Linked DNA regions of Homo sapiens: region 1 is linked to region 2. Evidence: fine-mapped expression QTL. Tissue or cell type: whole blood. Region 2 holds a variant in brackets; the other region holds the start of a gene. All regions are shown on one strand. Distances are between the middles of the regions.

Region 1 (8,106 bases), 470 kb after region 2:
GTCACCAAAAGGTGACTTTTGGCAAGCCCCTCAGGGCAGAGGCTGGCTGCCAGGGGAACCAGCTCTAATTAGAGGGTTGGAAGTTTCAGGCCCACCCCTCCCGCCAGCCCCAACCTCCAGTGAAGGGAGAGGGGCTAAAGGCTGAGCTCATCACCAATGGCCAATAATCACACTAGGTAACTGCGGCCTCCATAAAATCCCCAACTGAAGGGGATGGAAGAGCTTCCTTCCAGTTCAGTGAATCCTGGAGGTGCTGGGACAGTGGCACCTGCAGAGGGAATGGAAGCCCCTGCACCCTCCCTCAGACCTGCCCTCTGCATATCTTCTATCTGGCTGTTCCTGGGTTGTATTCCTTGTAAGTAATTGGTAAACGCAAGTGAAGTGTTTCCCTGAGTTTCATGAGCCATTCTGGCAAATCATCAAACCTGAGGAGGCTGTCGGTCAGAGGTCAGAAGGGAGGTCCTGATGTGCAACTGACATCTGGGGTGGAGAAGTCTTGTGGGACTGAGCCTTTAGCCTGTGGGATCCGAGGCTACATCTAGGTAGACAGCATCAGAACGGAACTGAATTGTAAGATGCTCAGTCAGTGTGGGAAACACCACCCCCCGACCCCCCCAGAGGGACATCCACGTTACTATCTAGGCACAACAGCCAAGTTGACACATAAAACCAGCCACCACAGCCTGCAAGGGCAGAGGCCAGGCTGTCTTCTGCAGAAAATGAAGGCACACACTGTAGGCTTCTCCATCTGCTAAAATGACAGCTGAGGCCTACCTTCCAAGTGGCTAGCTGTCAGCAACACAAAACAGCACCCACCATCAGCTACTGGTCAGAGAAAATGACTTTGAGCGATCTGCTGTCAGGGAAGCCTGCCCAGGAGATGCAAGCTCAACTTCACACATAAAAGTGGAAATACATCAGAAAAATTGGGAGTGTTAGGATTCCGGAGGCTGGTACCACAACTGACTAATTAAAACAAATCCCAGAAGTGGGGATCACAGAGCAGAAGGGTCTGCAAAACACTTCTCTAGATCATCTTCTTTAACTCCTGGGTCCAGCCAAACCAAAAGATTAATCGTATTTCATTGTGTTTATCTCATTAGGAATATTTAGGACAGCAGTGTGGGCCCCAAGGTAGAGCTGCTTTTCCTTAATCTGTGTTGTAGTCATGCCAGGAGCTTATGGGAAGAGTCTCAAAAACTGATTGTTACATCCACTGCAGGGGTGCTGCAGGTCAGTGGCTCAGCACATCGACAACACAGCTTCACAAAGGCCCACAGAATAAACCGTGCAACTGTCCTTTCAGGATGTTATAGAAGGGATCCCGTGACTCTCATAACTGGGCATGGGCTGCTTTCACTGCCAGGATCCTGGTCTGTGTTTTGTGTCCTGACCCTCACTGTCCCACCCCAACCCTCACTCTGAGGCCTTCTAATGTGAACCTTTTGTGCTGTATCTAGCATAAGCATCCTCAAATTCTCTCTGGATAGAGATGGAATGTCAATTCAATATGAAATAGAAACATTTTAACTCTAACATTTCAGAATGGCAACAGACTTCGGAAACATCACCAGCTTGATTCCCCTCATTTTAAAGATGAGAAAACTGAGGCCAATAATGGCAAAGAAATCCGCCCAAGCCCACAGTTGCACAGACCGAATGGAAAGGCCAGGATGAAAAGGAGCGTGGAATCACGCACACCCTTTCTTCTCCATGCAGCGCAATCCCAGGCTCTGCAGCTTCAGGTTGGACTCTCCTTGCCACCTTGCCACCACTTCAGAGAATCCATTAAATGTCTTCATGACCAACCGCCACCTCTTGCCAAGCACAAAGCTCTCCATGTTAGCCAGATGTTTTGACGTGCTGATTTGCCAAGCATGGCAAAGCTTGACAAATCTTCCTCTGAACACCCCAACTTCTACTCTTTCGCTATGTACCACAAATAAAGTGCTAAGAGTTATGAAACAATAGGTTCAGTATAATGTTATTTTATGTATTAAAAACAAGTTTCTGCCAATACGGAAAAAACAATGTAGAACACAAAATATTTACAGCACAAAGTGGGCGATAGAAGTGGGTTACAGGATTACAGTTAATTTTTTTCCTTCTGGCTTATCTATATTTTCTAATTTTTCCTCCAGTAATAATTTTTCCTTCAGGACTTGCATAATTTAAAAAAAGACAAAAATAACAATAAAAGCGTTCTATTTAGGAGCTCTAGAGTGTCACATTACCACAGTCTGCAGTGTGCCGGTGAATGTCTGAGGTCATTTCTGGCTGAGGGGGAGGCACAGCAGTTATTTTCTTGGGAGCACACCTCCTCTCATTGGCTCTGGTGGGACTGGTTGCTGGTCCATCACCAGCAAGCATGTAACTTTTCCAAAGAAAGGATTGCAAGCTTATTTTCATCATGAATTAGCGAAAGAAGCAGTTAAATCCCAATTTTCCATGTCCTTCCTATTCAGAATAGGCACACAGCTTATTTACACACTGTGAGATCTAAAAGTTTACAACTTTACGACTTACAGACTGTGCGGTTTAAGAGAAAGGTTTCCACCCAGAGCCACCACACGTAGACAATCAAAAGAGATCTCACGGAGGATCAAAAAACCTGTTTTGTTGCAGGGACTATCTTGTTCATGAAGGTCATTTCCGTAATCCCTGAGCCCATCGCTGGCCTCTCCAGGATGTGATTATACATAAATACTCCAATGGGCACCCTAAGGTGTAGAGCTGAGTCCTGGTCCAGCTCCAAGGAAATGCCCTTGAATGTGAAGGCAGAGCTATGTCCTTGCCATCCGCCACTTAGACAATAAAAATGATGTTGCGGGTCGGGTGCGTTGGCTCACGCCTGTAACTCCTGCACTTTGGGAGGCCGAGGCGGGCGGATCACGAGGTCAGGAGTTTGAGACCAGCCTGGCCAACATGGTGAAACCCCGTCTCTACTAAAGATACAAAAAATTAGCCGGGCGTGGTGGTAGGCGCCTGTAATCCCAGCTACTTGGGAGGCTAAGGCAGGAGAATTGCTTGAACCCGGGAGGCGGAGGTTGCACTGAGCCGAGATCGCGCCACTGCACTCTAGCTTCACGCTACAGGGCAAGACTCAGAATTAAAAAAAAAAAAAAAATGGTGCTGTGCATCAGAACTCTCCCAACAGCAGGGAATTCTGGGGGAGCCACTGCTTCTTGGCTGCTTTTCCTGGCAAAGTCATCCCAAGCCCTTGTTATAACCTGTTTTGGCCATTCGTTGCCACTTCTATGTTTTGCATACCAAATATGAAGAGCCCCAGTTGGTATTCTAACAAATCTGTCCCTTTTACCATCTCCATTTTAGAAAAAAGAATGTCCCAGAATAAGTTTGGAAAAGCAGTCAATCTCTTAGCAATTACCGTATTAAACATATCTTAATGCCCTACAAAAATATTCTAAAATACCATCCATAAAGCAAGTGCTCACTGCCTAGATGTACACTGCAAGTAAAATCTTTGCCAAGTGGCTTCAGGTCTGGAAGTGTGTCTTTTCCTCACCAGTTCTCCCTCTACGTTAGTGTAGTAGAAAGACAATTCTCCATGGTCAAGAGTTTAAAAGCAAACGACAACAACAAAAAACTGGCAACAGGGGGCTGTGCAAGACTACCATGTACCTATCAAACTGAAAACTACCATCCTATCCATTGACCTGCAAAGCTGTTTATCAGTGAAAAAGTTACAAATGTTTACGAATGAAACAGAAAATCTAAAAAACTGTATGTGCATTATACTTTTTAAAAATGTGTATGTATATTTAGGAATACCAAAAACACAGCAAGAACACAGGCCCATAGTAAACATGGTTAAGAGTAACGGGGACAATCAGTGACTTTGTTTCACTACTCAAACAAATTTTTGCAAGATATAAAAAGTAACAATTAGTAAGATGATCTCTGTCAACTTCAACCCAAGCAAATTTCTCCAAGGGAGGTGTGGGAACCTCTAAGACAGAGCCTTCTTCGAGGGCTCCATCTCCATCTCTGAGCTTCGTACCCCTCCCTGCGTGAAGCAGGCATCTTCAGTGATTTTCTTCTAAGCAGCGTACACAAAAAAAAGTCTCACAATTCCCTGCAGATTACCGAGCTCACCCCATTCCAACCCACAAGGCTGCCCAGGCCTGGTTCCAGTCCCATTTTCTCCCACAGGCTGCTGCAGGAAAACAAAGAGTGGCTGGAGGCAGGGGCGGGGAGCACCGGCTCTGCAGCCAGCGCGGAAGCGCACGGCCAGAAAGAGACCGGGAACGTCCGCCAGGCTCCCGGGCTCAGCATCATCTGCGGGGGACGGCGGACCCCGCCAGGCGCGGGCTCCCAGTGGGGCGGACCCGTGGCCGCGGCCCTGCGCAGGGGACGCCCGGGCCCCGCCGACTGCGGCTTCCAGGCGACTCCCCAGTCGGCTGTGCCTGGCCGCCGGCCGGCTAGGGGCGCAGGTAACGCCCGACGGGCCGCCCCGCAGAGACCCCCGCTGGCGCGGCTCCGGGACCGGCGCCCTCTCAGCGGGCACGGGCGCACAGGGCGGGGCAGCGCCTCACCTTGGGGTCGCGCTCGTAGTAGTGCTGCTGCGTGCGGATCCAGCGGCCCACGAGGTGGTCGCGCACCGTGTGCGCCAGCGCGAAGAAGTAGTCGCGGGGCGTGGCCACATTGCGGTCCTTGACCAGCGTGAAGTGCAAGTGCCGGTTGAAGCTCTTCCGCACCTCGGCCACGTCGCCTAGCCCCGCCAGGCCGCGCACGCTGATCTGCTTCCGCTTCTCGCTGTCCGTCAGCGGCTTCGCCATCGCGCCGGCGGAGGCGGAGGAAAAGAGATGGAGGAGGAAAGCGGCGGCACACGCGAACGCCGGGATGGTGCAGCTGCTCTGGCGCCGCTGCTCTGGCGCCCGGCACTGCGGCTCTGCGGGCGGGATGGACCGCGCCTGCGCGCCGCGCCGGGGCGGGGCCTCGGGGGGCGGGGCGGGGCCTCGGGAGGGCGGGGCGGGCGTCCAGGCTCATAGCTGAGATCTCTGGTGTAGTCCGAGGCGGCAGCGACCTGTCCACGCCACCTGAGCGTGGTGTTTGCCCCCTCGTTGGGCAAGCCCGGCAGAAAGTGGGAGCGACTGGAGGGGGCAAGGGACCCGGGGCCTCGGAGCGTGCCGTCGTGGCCGCTCCTGCCAGCCCGGGGACGGTGCGGGAAGGGGGCCCTGCCCTCCGGCCCTCGGGTTCCTGGGACCGGCCCTCCCGCCCTGCACCGGGTCACCAGGTGCCCCGCGGGAGCGCGCTGGGCTCGGGCTGTGGCCGAGACCTGGTACACGTTCGGGGAAACTGATTACAGCTTGAAAGGCATCCACCAACGCCTGCTGGGCCCGGTCTTCTCTGTCCGGGGCAGGGCGGCTCTGAAAATACCAGCTATTTGCTTGCCACTCCAGGCCGATGACAGACGTGGAGAAAACCAGCTGCCAGCGAGCTGGAGACGCCCGTTCCCGAGGGCGCGAGGCAGCCACAGCCAAATGCCACCACGACCCCGCCTCGGAGGGACCGCAGCCCCCTAGCCCTCGGAGAAACCCTGTTCCCGAAACCACCTGGCAGACGCTGTCCGCTTTGAGATTACAGCAGGGAGAAGGAAACATGCCCGTCTGGCCGGGGAGCTCAGCCACTAACCGAGACTTAGCCTCTGTCATCCCAATCCAGGCTGCAGCTCCAGATAGGGGGCGTCTGCACACAGCTTCCCACACTTGGCCCCGCGGAACACAGTCCTGCTGGCCTCAGCCTGTGGGAACCCTGCTTCATGTAAAGGTCACCTAAACTCTGCCTTCCCTCAACCCCTTCAAACTCTGCCTTTCCCTTCGTTCTTGGGAGGCGCTCCCTCATTGCAGTGGGTCAGTACACCCGATTTTGTGGACCACAGGTTTGCTCCTGGTGGTCTTGGGCTGAAGGGGCTGCAAAGGTTACTGAATTTCGTGGAGGTAAAAATTGCCCGCAGGAAATGTCATGAAAGTCCAGGTGCAGTAGGTTTCCTGGTGTGATGCTTCAAAGTTATCTTCTTACCTGGAGCCCCTTCCAGCTGCAGACTTCAGAGGTCGGAGGTTAATCAATCTGGAATGACCCCACAGCCCACCCAGCTCCAGCTCGGGATTCACTCCTGCACTATGTCCTAGGGATTCTGGAGCCAACAAGATCGAACTTCGGGCACAGATGGCAGGGCTGTGGGGTCGAGCTTGGCTGCAAGCTCCGAACACTGATGCAATCTCTCTGAGGGTGATCTGGCAATTCAGAAGTCATAAAAATGATAGTGCCCTATGACCACTTCTACCACTCTGGGGAATTGAGTTCAAGGAAAGCTTAAGAAGACAAAAAGCAAGTTATGCAAATATGTTATCTGCTGTGGTGTGGTAAAGTTTAATCCCCCAGCTGTGGTGCACACCTGGCAAAGAATGGAGGCGCTGACACTTATTGATCATTACTTGCAGTGTACACGTATTAACTCCTGATCCCTGCAAATAGCCTGCTATTACCCCCGCTTGACAATGGAGAAGGTGAGCCACAGAGAAGTTAACTCTTCCCTAAGCCCACACAGCTAATAAGGGAAACAGCCAAGGTTCACCCCAGCCAAGCCCTGCTCCACTGCACAAGCCCAGAAAAATGTATCTGTGCTCAAAGTTAATATCATAAACCATTGTGCTGCTAAAAGGAATGACTGTTTTAATAGCTAGCTAGGAAGGTGTGATTGATGACACAATACTGATAAATGAAACACAAAAATAAGGATGTAATGCAGAAATGACAGTAATGATTTGAATATTACTTTCATTTAGTCAATTTAAATTTAAATTAAATAACCACATGTGGCTAGGGACTACTGTGTTAGAAACACAGGTGTATATCCAAACCTAAACACTGGTTATTTCTGAATGGAAGAATTATCAGGGGGGTTATCTTATTTTCTCCATACATTTTGTATTTCCTGTTTTTTCCACAATATTTCTTTTGTAAGTGGAGTAAGTTTTAGTAAGAAAAACTAGAGGCCACAGACTTCACTAATGGATGCTGATTTAAGGCCTATATATTCTCTTACTGGATTGACTTTTAATTCTTTGTTACTCTGGTTAAATAAATTTTAAGTCCTTTCTTTCATAGCTACACTTTATTAAATTTTCCATGATCCTGACAAAAATTCTTTGACCAAACTCTAGTCAGGCTTCTGAGCCTTGTAGGGCCATCATACACTTCCCTGTGACATCTGTTTTAGCAATCCCTGCTTTGTCAATTTAGCAGGATTCCCTGCCCCTGATGTCTGATCCCCCTTGGTGACATCTGATCAGGCTCCCCATGCTCCACCATCCCCCATGCTGTCCAATCACCCTGGCCTGCCTTCAACAGGAATCCTATGAGGTGGTTTAGACACAATCACCTGGACCCCTGAAGTGTCCTCTTAGTAACTGTCCATCCACTGACCCCTCCCCCAGTCCTTGGCTATAAATGCCCACTTGCCCATGCTGTTTTCGGAGTTGAGCCCAATCTCTCTCCCCTGCTGCAAGATCCCGTTGCAGTGGTCCCTGTACCTATCATGATGGTTGTGAATAAAGTCTGGTACCATGCTTTAACAAATGCTATTGATTATTTTTTTTCTTTAACAGTTATCTTACCCAGATGTCATTTCCTCTTCCTGGGAGCTGCCATGGTCCTTCCCCTCTCCTGCAGCACTTAGTCCAATACTGAATCTTCATGATGTGACTCTTCATAATGCGCATGGTTGACGCAGGAAGGAGCCCTCTCACCATCATGTCTCCTCACCTCCTCTGGCCGCTAATATTGCTGAAGTGGCTAAATGAGTCCCAGTATTAATTATCTCAGCCATTTTCAGGTAATTTATTTATTTATTTATTATTAATGTTTTTGAGATGGAGTCTTGCTCTGTCACCCAGGCTGGAGTGCAGTGGTGCAATCTCCGCTCACTGCAACCTCCGCCTCCTGGGTTCAAGCAATTCTCCTGCCTCAGCCTCCCATGTAGCTGGGATTATAGGCACTCACTACCATGCCCAGCTAATTTTTGTATTTTTAGTGGAGACAGGATTTCACCATGTTTCTGGGCTGGTCTTTAACTCCTGACCT
Region 2 (8,106 bases):
CAGGATCAGGAGGATTCACAGCCAAATTACACCAAACATACAAAAAAAATTAATACCTATTCTTTTGAAACTATTCTAAAACATAGATAAGCAGGGAATCCTCAACAAAACACTAAAAAATGGAATCCAACAGCACATCAAAAAGATACCACACCACGATCAGGTGTAATTTATCCCAAGGGCGGAAGGATGGTTTAACATATGGAAATCAGTAAGTGTGATATATCACATCAACAGAATTAGAAACAAAAACCATATGATCATCTCAACAGATGCAGAAAAGGCATCCAATAAAACTCAGCATCACTTCATGATAAAAATCCTCAACAAACTAGGCATAGAAGAAATATACTTCAACATAATAAAGATTATATACAACAAACCCACAGCCAACATCATACTTTTTAAAAAATAGAAACCCTTCAGATCCTCCTGTGTATCATTCATCTATAAGAATGTGGTAGTATTTCTGCTTATTCCAAGAGGGCAGCTGATTAATATCAAACTCTTTTTCTTTCTCCCACTAGAATCAGAAGACCTTTCAAAACAGGATTTTCTTGTTCACTTGTTTTACCTACATCCTTAGCAACTAGCACAGGGCCCTAAATAGAGAAATTTGAAAATACATTTAATGATGCTAGTAGAAATATTTCTGAGGACATGTTTTGTGCATAAGGAAATGAGTAAGAAGACATTTTCCCTACTTTTTGCAAAGACCTCAATCCTAAGGCTAAAATATGCATTACCTAATCTCATAATTCTATCTCGTTTTTTAAAATTTTAGATTCAGGGGTACCTGTGCAGGTTTTTTATATGGGTATATTTTCTGATGCTGAGGTTTGGGCTTCTAATGATCTGTTGCCCAAGTAGCAAACATAGTACCCAATAAGTAATCTCCCAACCCTTGTTCCCCATCCTTCCTCCCCTAATTTAGAGTGTCCCATGTCTACTCTTCCCATCTTTGTGTCCATGTGTACCCAACAACATCATATCTAATATGGGAAAGTTGAAAGCATTTCCTGTAAGAACTAGAACAATACAAGGATGCCGACTTTCACTATTCTTATTCAACACAGTACTGGAATTTCTTGCCAGAGCAATCAGGCAGAAGAAAGAAATAAAATGCATCCAAATTGGAAAAGAGGAAGTCAAGTTACCCCTGTTTGCTGATGATATAATATTATTCCTGAAGAACCCTAAAGATGCTGCCCAAAATTCTTAAATTTGACAAAGGAAGCAGTGAGCGTCAGGATACAAAATTAATGTACAAATATCAGTAGTGTTTATATACACAAATAATGAGCCAGCCAAAGGCCAAATCAAGAAAACAATCCCATTTACAATAGCTACAAAAAAATACCGAGGAATATCTTTGACCTAGAAGCTGAAAGACTTCTAGAAGGAGAACTACAAAACACTGATGAAAAAAATCCTAGATGACATAAACAAATGAAAAACCCCCACGCTTATAAATTAGAATATGCAATATCATTAAAATGACCATACTGTTCAAGGCAAACTACAGATTCAACACAATCCCTATCAAATTACCAATGTTATTTTTCACAGAATTAGAAAAAAAAATCCTAAAATTAATATGGAACCAAAAAAAGGGCCTGAACAGCCAAAGCAATTCTAAGGAAGAAGAACAAAGCTGGAGGCATCACATTACCTGTTTTCAAATTATACTACAAAACTATAGAAACCAAAACAGCATTGTACTGGCATAACATAGACACATAGATCAATGGAGCAGAATAGACAACTCAGAAATAAAGCCCCATACCTACAACCAACTTATCTTTTAAAAAGTCAACAAAAATATATTCTGGGGAAATGACACCCTATAAATAAGTGGTGCCAGTAAAATTGGATAAACACATATGGGATAATAAAACTGGACCCATACCTCTCAAAATATACAAAAATAAACTCAATATGGATCAAAGACCAAAGTGTAAGACCTGAAACCACAGAAATCCTAGAAGAAAACTTAGGAAAAACCCTTCCAGACATTGGTCTAGGCAAAGAATTAATGACCAAGTCCTCAAAAGCAAATGCAATAAAAATAAACAGACGAGATAATTTAACTAAAAAGTTTCTGCACAGCAAAAGAAATAATTAATAAAGTAAACAGACAACCTATAAAGTGGGAAAATATATTTGCAAACTATGCATCCAACAAAGCGCTTACATCCAGAATCTACAAGGAACTCTAACAACAAAACAACAAGAAACAACCCCATTAAAAAGCGGGCAAAGGATACAAACAGACATTTTTCAAAAGAGTACCTACAAGCAGTCAACAAACATGAAAAATGCTCAATATTTCTAATCATCAGAGAAATAAAAATTAAAATAGTAAAATACAATCTTATACCAGTCAGAATGGCTATTACTAAAAAGTCAAAAAAAACAAAACAGATGTTGATGAGGATGTGAAGAAAAGGTAATGCTTATATACTGTTGGTAGAAATGTAAATAAGTACAACCTCTACGGAAAACAATAAGGAGATTTCTCAAAGAACTAATAACAGAACTACCATTTGATCCAATTCCATTACTGGGTATATACCCAAAGGAAAAGAAATCAGTATATCAAAAATATACCTGCACTCATGTTTATCACAGACCTATTCACAATTGCAAAAAAAGAAATAAACATACATGTCCATCAGCGGAGAACTGGATATAGAAAATACTACTCAGCCATAAAATCATGTCTTTTGCAGCAACACTGATGGTATTGAAGCCCATTATCTTAAGTGAAAAACTCAGAAACAGAAAGTCAAATACTGCATGCCATCACTTGTAAATGAGAGCTAAACAATTGATACATATGGACATACAGAGTGAAATAATACGCATTGGAGACTACAAAAGATAGGAGGGTGGGAGAGAGGTGATGGTTGAAAATTTACCTATTGGGTACAGTGATCACTATTAAGGTGACGGGTACACTAAAAGCCCAGTCTACCCAACAGTATGCAATATATGCATGTAAGAAATCTGCACTTGTACCTACTAAAGAAATGAAAAATAAAAATTAAAAAGTATAACAAGTACAACTATGTAAGGTACATAATCTTTTATGGTGATTGGAGGCTCCCATTGAAAAAAAAACATAAGCCAGGATTCTGCTCCAAGACAGCCGAATAGGAACAGCTCCCGTCTGCAGCTCCCAGCATGATCAATGCAGAAGATGGCAATTTCTGCATTTCCAACTGAGGTACCTGGTTCATCTTACTGGGACTGGTTGGACAGTGGATGCAGCCCATGGAGGGTGAGCCAAAGCAGGGTGGTGCATCACCTTACCTGGGAAGTGCAAGGGGTCAGGGGATTTCCCTTTCCCAGCCAAGGGAAGCCAAGTCAGACTGAACCTAGAAAATCCGGACACCCTCACACAAATACTGTGCTTTACCTACAGTCTTAGCAAATGGCACACCCAGAGATTATATCTCGCACCTGGCTTGGCAGGACCCACACCCACAGAGCCTTGCTCACTGCTACAGCAGCAGTCTGAGATCGACCTGTGAGGCAGCAGTCTGGCAGTGGGAGAGGTGTCCGCCATTGCTCAGGCGTGAGTAGGTAAACAAAGTGGCCTGGGAAGCTTGAACGGGGCAGAGCCCACCGCAGCTCTGCAAGGCCTGCTGCCTCTGTAGACCCCACCTCTGGGGGTGGGGAATAGCTAAACAAAAGACAGCAGAAACTTCTGCAGACTTAAATATCCCTGTCTGACAGCTCTGAAGAGAGAAGTGGTTCTCCCAGCATGGTGTTTGAGCTCTGAGAATGGATAGACTGCCTCCTCAAGTGGGTCCCTGACACGCATGTAGCCAAACTGGGAGACACCTCCCAGTAGGGGCCAACTGACACATCATACAGGAGGGTGCCCCTCTGGGATGAAGCTTCCAGAGGAAGGATCAGGCAGCAACATTTGCTGTTCTGCAATATTTGCTGTGCTGCAGCCTCTCCTAGTGATATCCAGGCAAAGAGGGTCTGGAGTGGACCTCCAGCAAACTCCAACAGACCTGCAGCTGAGGGACCTGACTCTTAGAAGGAAAACTGACAAACAGAAAGGAATAGCATCAACATCAACAAAAGGGACATCCACAGCAAAACCCCATCTGTTGGTCACCAGCATCAAAGACCAAAGGTAGATAAAACAAGAAAAATGGGTCTTTGGGATGGATGGAGCCAAGATGACTGAACAGGAACAGCTCTGGTCTACAGCTCCCAACGTGAGCGATGCAGAAGATGGGTGATTTCTGCATTTCCATCTGAGGTACCGGGTTCATCTCACTAGGGAGTGCCAGAGAGTGGGCACAGGACAATGGGTGCAGTGCACCGTGCACGAGCTGAAGCAGGGCGAGGCATTGCCTCACTTGGGAAGCGCAAAGGGTCAAGGAGTTCCCTTTCCTAGTCAAAGAAAGGGGTGACAGATGGCATCTGGAAAATTGGGTCACTCCCACCCTAATGCTGCACTTTTCGGACAGGCTTAAAAAACGGCACAACAGAAGATTATATCCCACACCTGGCTTGGAGGGTCCTATGCCCATGGAGTCT[C/T]GCTGATTGCTAGCACAGCAGTCTGAGATCAAACTGCAAGGCGACAGTGAGGCTGGGGGAGGAGCGCCTGCCATTGCCCAGGCTTGCTTAGGCAAACAAAGCAGCCAGGAAACTCGAACTGGGTGGAGCCCACCACAGCTCAAGGAGGCCTGCCTGCCTCTGTAGGCTCCACCTCTGGGGGCAGGGCACAGACAAACAAAAAGACAGCAGGAACCTCTGCAGACTTAAATGTCCCTGTCTGACAGCTTTGAAGAGAGCAGTGGTTCTCCCAGCACACAGCTGGAGATCTGAGAACGGGCAGACTGACTCCTCAAGTGGGTCCCTGAACCCTGACCCCCGAGCAGCCTAACTGGGAGACACCCCCAGTAGGGGCAGACTGACACCTCACACGGCCGGGTACTCCTCTGAGACAAAACTTCCAGAGGAAAGATCAGACAGCAGCATTCACGGTTCACGAAAATCTGCTATTCTGCAGCCACCGCTGCTGGTACCCAGGCAAACAAGGTCTGGAGTGGACTTCTAGCAAACTCCAACAGACCTGCAGCTGAGGGTCCTGTCTGTCAGAAGGAAAACTAACAAACAGAAAGGACATCCACATCAAAAACCCATCTGTACATCACCATCATCAAAGACCAAAAGCAGATAAAACCACAAAGATGGGGAAAAAACAGAGCAGAAAAATTGGAAAAACTGGAAACTCTAAAAAGCAGAGCACCTCTCCTCCTCCAAAGGAATGCAGTTCCTCACCAGCAATGAAACAAAGCTGGACGGAGAATGACTTTGATGAGTTGAGAGAAGAAAGCTTCAGATGACAAAACTACTCTGAGCTACAGGAGGAAATTCAAACCAAAGGCAAAGAAGTTAAAAACTTTGAAAAAAATTAAGACGAATGTATAACTAGAATAACCAATACAGAGAAGTGCTTAAAGGAGCTGAAGATGCTGAAAGCCAAGGCTCAAGAACTACGTGAAGAATGCAGAAGCCTCAGGAGCCGATGCAATCAAATGGAAGAAAGGGTATCAGTGATGGAAGATGAAATGAATGAAATGAAGCGAGAAGGGAAGTTTAGAGAAAAAACAATAAAAAGAAATGAATAAAGCCTCCAAGAAATATGGGACTATGTGAAAAGACCAAATCTACATCTGACTGGTGTACCTGAAAGTGATGGGGAGAATGGAACCAAGTTGGAAAACGCTCTGCAGGATATTATCCAGGAGAACTTACCCAATCTAGCAAGGCAAGCCAGCATTCAGATTCAGGAAATACAGAGAATACCACAAAGATACTCCTCGAGAAGAGCAACTCCAAGACACATAATTGTCAGGTTCACCAAAGTTGAAATGAAGGAAAAAATGTTAAGGGAAGCCAGAGAGAAAGGTCGGGATACCCACAAAGGGAAGCCCATGAGACTAACTGCTGATCCCTTCACAGAAACTCAACAAGCCAGAAGACAGTGAGGGCCAACATTCAACATTCTTAAAGAAAAGAATTTTCAACCCAGAATTTCATATCCAGCCAAACTAAGCTTCATAAGTGAAGGAGAAATAAAATACTTTACAGAAAAGCAAATGTTGAGAGATTTTGTCACCACCAGGCCTGCCCTAAAAGAGCTCCTGAAGGAAGCACTAAACATGGAAAGGAACAACCGGTAACAGCCACTGCAAAATCATGCCAAATTGTAAAGACCATCAAGGCTAGGAAGAAACTGCATTAACTAACGAGCAAAATAACCAGCTAACATCATAATGACAGGATCAAATTCACACAAAGCAATATTAACTTTAAATGTAAATGGAATAAATGCTCCAAATAAAAGACACAGACTGGCAAATTGGATAAAGAGTCAAGACCCATCAGTGTGCTGTATTCATGAAACCCATCTCACGTGCAGAGACACAGATAGGCTCAAAACAAAAGGATGGAGGAAGATCTACCAAGCAAATGGAAAACAAAAAAAGGCAGGGTTGCAATCCTAGTCTCTGATAAAACAGACTTTAAACCAACAAAGAACAAAAGAGACAAAGAAGGCCATTGCATAGTGGTAAAGGGATCAAATCAACAAGAAGAGCTAACTATCCTAAATATATATGCACCCAATACAGGAGCACCCAGATTCATAAAGCAAGTCCTGAGTGACCTACAAAGAGACTTAGACTCCCACACAATAATAATGGGAGACTTTAACACCCCACTGTCAACATTAGACAGATCAACGAGACAGAAAGTTAAGAAGGATACCCAGGAATTGAACTCAGCTCTGCACCAAGCAGACCTAATGGACATCTACAGAACTCTCCACCCCAAATCAACAAAATACACATTTCTTTCAGCACCACACCACACCTATTCCAAAATTGACCACATACTGGGAAGTAAAGCTCTCCTCAGCAAATGTAAAAGAACAGAAATTATAACAAACTGTCTCTCAGACCACAGTGCAATCAAACTAGAACTCACGATTAAGAAACCCACTCAAAACCACTCAACTACATGGAAACTGAACAACCTGCTCCTGAATTACTACTGGGTACATAACAAAATGAAGGCAGAAATAAAGATGTTCTTTGAAACCAACGAGAACAAAGACACAACATACCAGAATCTCTGGGACACATTCAAAGCAGTGTGTAGAGGGAAATTTATAGCACTAAATACCCACAAGAGAAAGCAGGAAAGATCCAAAATTGACACCCTAACATCACAATTAAAAGAACTAGAAAAGCAAGAGCAAACACATTCAAAAGCTAGCAGAAGGCAAGAAATAACTAAAATCAGAGCAGAACTGCAGGAAATAGAGACACAAACAACCCTTCAAAAAATTAATGAATCCAGGAGCTGGTTTTTCGAAAGGATCAACAAAATTGATAGACCACTAGCAAGACTAATAAAGAAGAAAAGAGAGAAGAATCAAATAGACGCAATAAAAAACGATAAAGGGGATATCACCACTGATCCCACAGAAATACAAACTACCATCAGAGAACATTACAAACACCTCTATGAAAATAAACTAGAAAATCTAGAAGAAATGGATATATTCCTCGACACATACACCCTCCGAAGACTAAACCAGGAAGAAATTCAATCTCTGAATAGACCAATAACAGGAGCTGAAATTGTGGCAACAATCAATAGCTTACCAACCTAACAGAGTCCAGGACCAGATGGATTCACAGCTGAATTCTACCAGAGGTACAAGGAGGAACTGGTACCATTCCTTCTGAAACTATTCCAATCAATAGAAAAAGAGGGAATCCTCCCTAACTCATTTTATGAGGCCAGGATCATCCTGATACCAAAGCCGGGCAGAGACACAACCAAAAAAGAGAATTTTAGACCAATATCCTTGATGAACATTGATGCAAAAATCCTCAATAAAATACTGGCAAACCGAACCCAGCAGCACATTAAAAAGCTTATCCACCATGATCAAGTGGGCTTCATCCCTGGGATGCAAGGTTGGTTCAATATACGCAAATCAATAAATGTAATCCAGCATATAAACAGAACCAAAGACAAAAACCACATGATTATCTCAATAGA

What was found. PIP is the estimated chance that this variant, and not a neighbour inherited with it, causes the effect.
Region 1: it holds the start of PYGB, and the variant in region 2 is fine-mapped to the expression of PYGB in whole blood (TOPMed, PIP above 0.99).

What each region holds. Positions count from the first base shown.
Region 1 is chr20:25,244,872-25,252,977 of GRCh38, reverse strand. PYGB (glycogen phosphorylase B) reads right to left here and starts at 4,893. Exons shown (of 20, transcript NM_002862.4): 1 at 4,557-4,893. The coding sequence starts at 4,799. RefSeq lists silencers at 4,250-4,629, 4,940-5,129, 5,140-5,329, 5,510-5,589, 5,608-5,861 and an enhancer at 4,780-4,859.
Region 2 is chr20:25,715,898-25,724,003 of GRCh38, reverse strand. All of the region lies in intron 1 of LOC107985400 (a long non-coding RNA gene), which reads right to left. Among named protein-coding and RNA genes, the nearest start is that of ZNF337, 23 kb to the right of the region's middle. RefSeq lists enhancers at 4,036-4,551, 4,552-5,067. The variant C/T (reference allele first, on the strand shown) is at 4,564.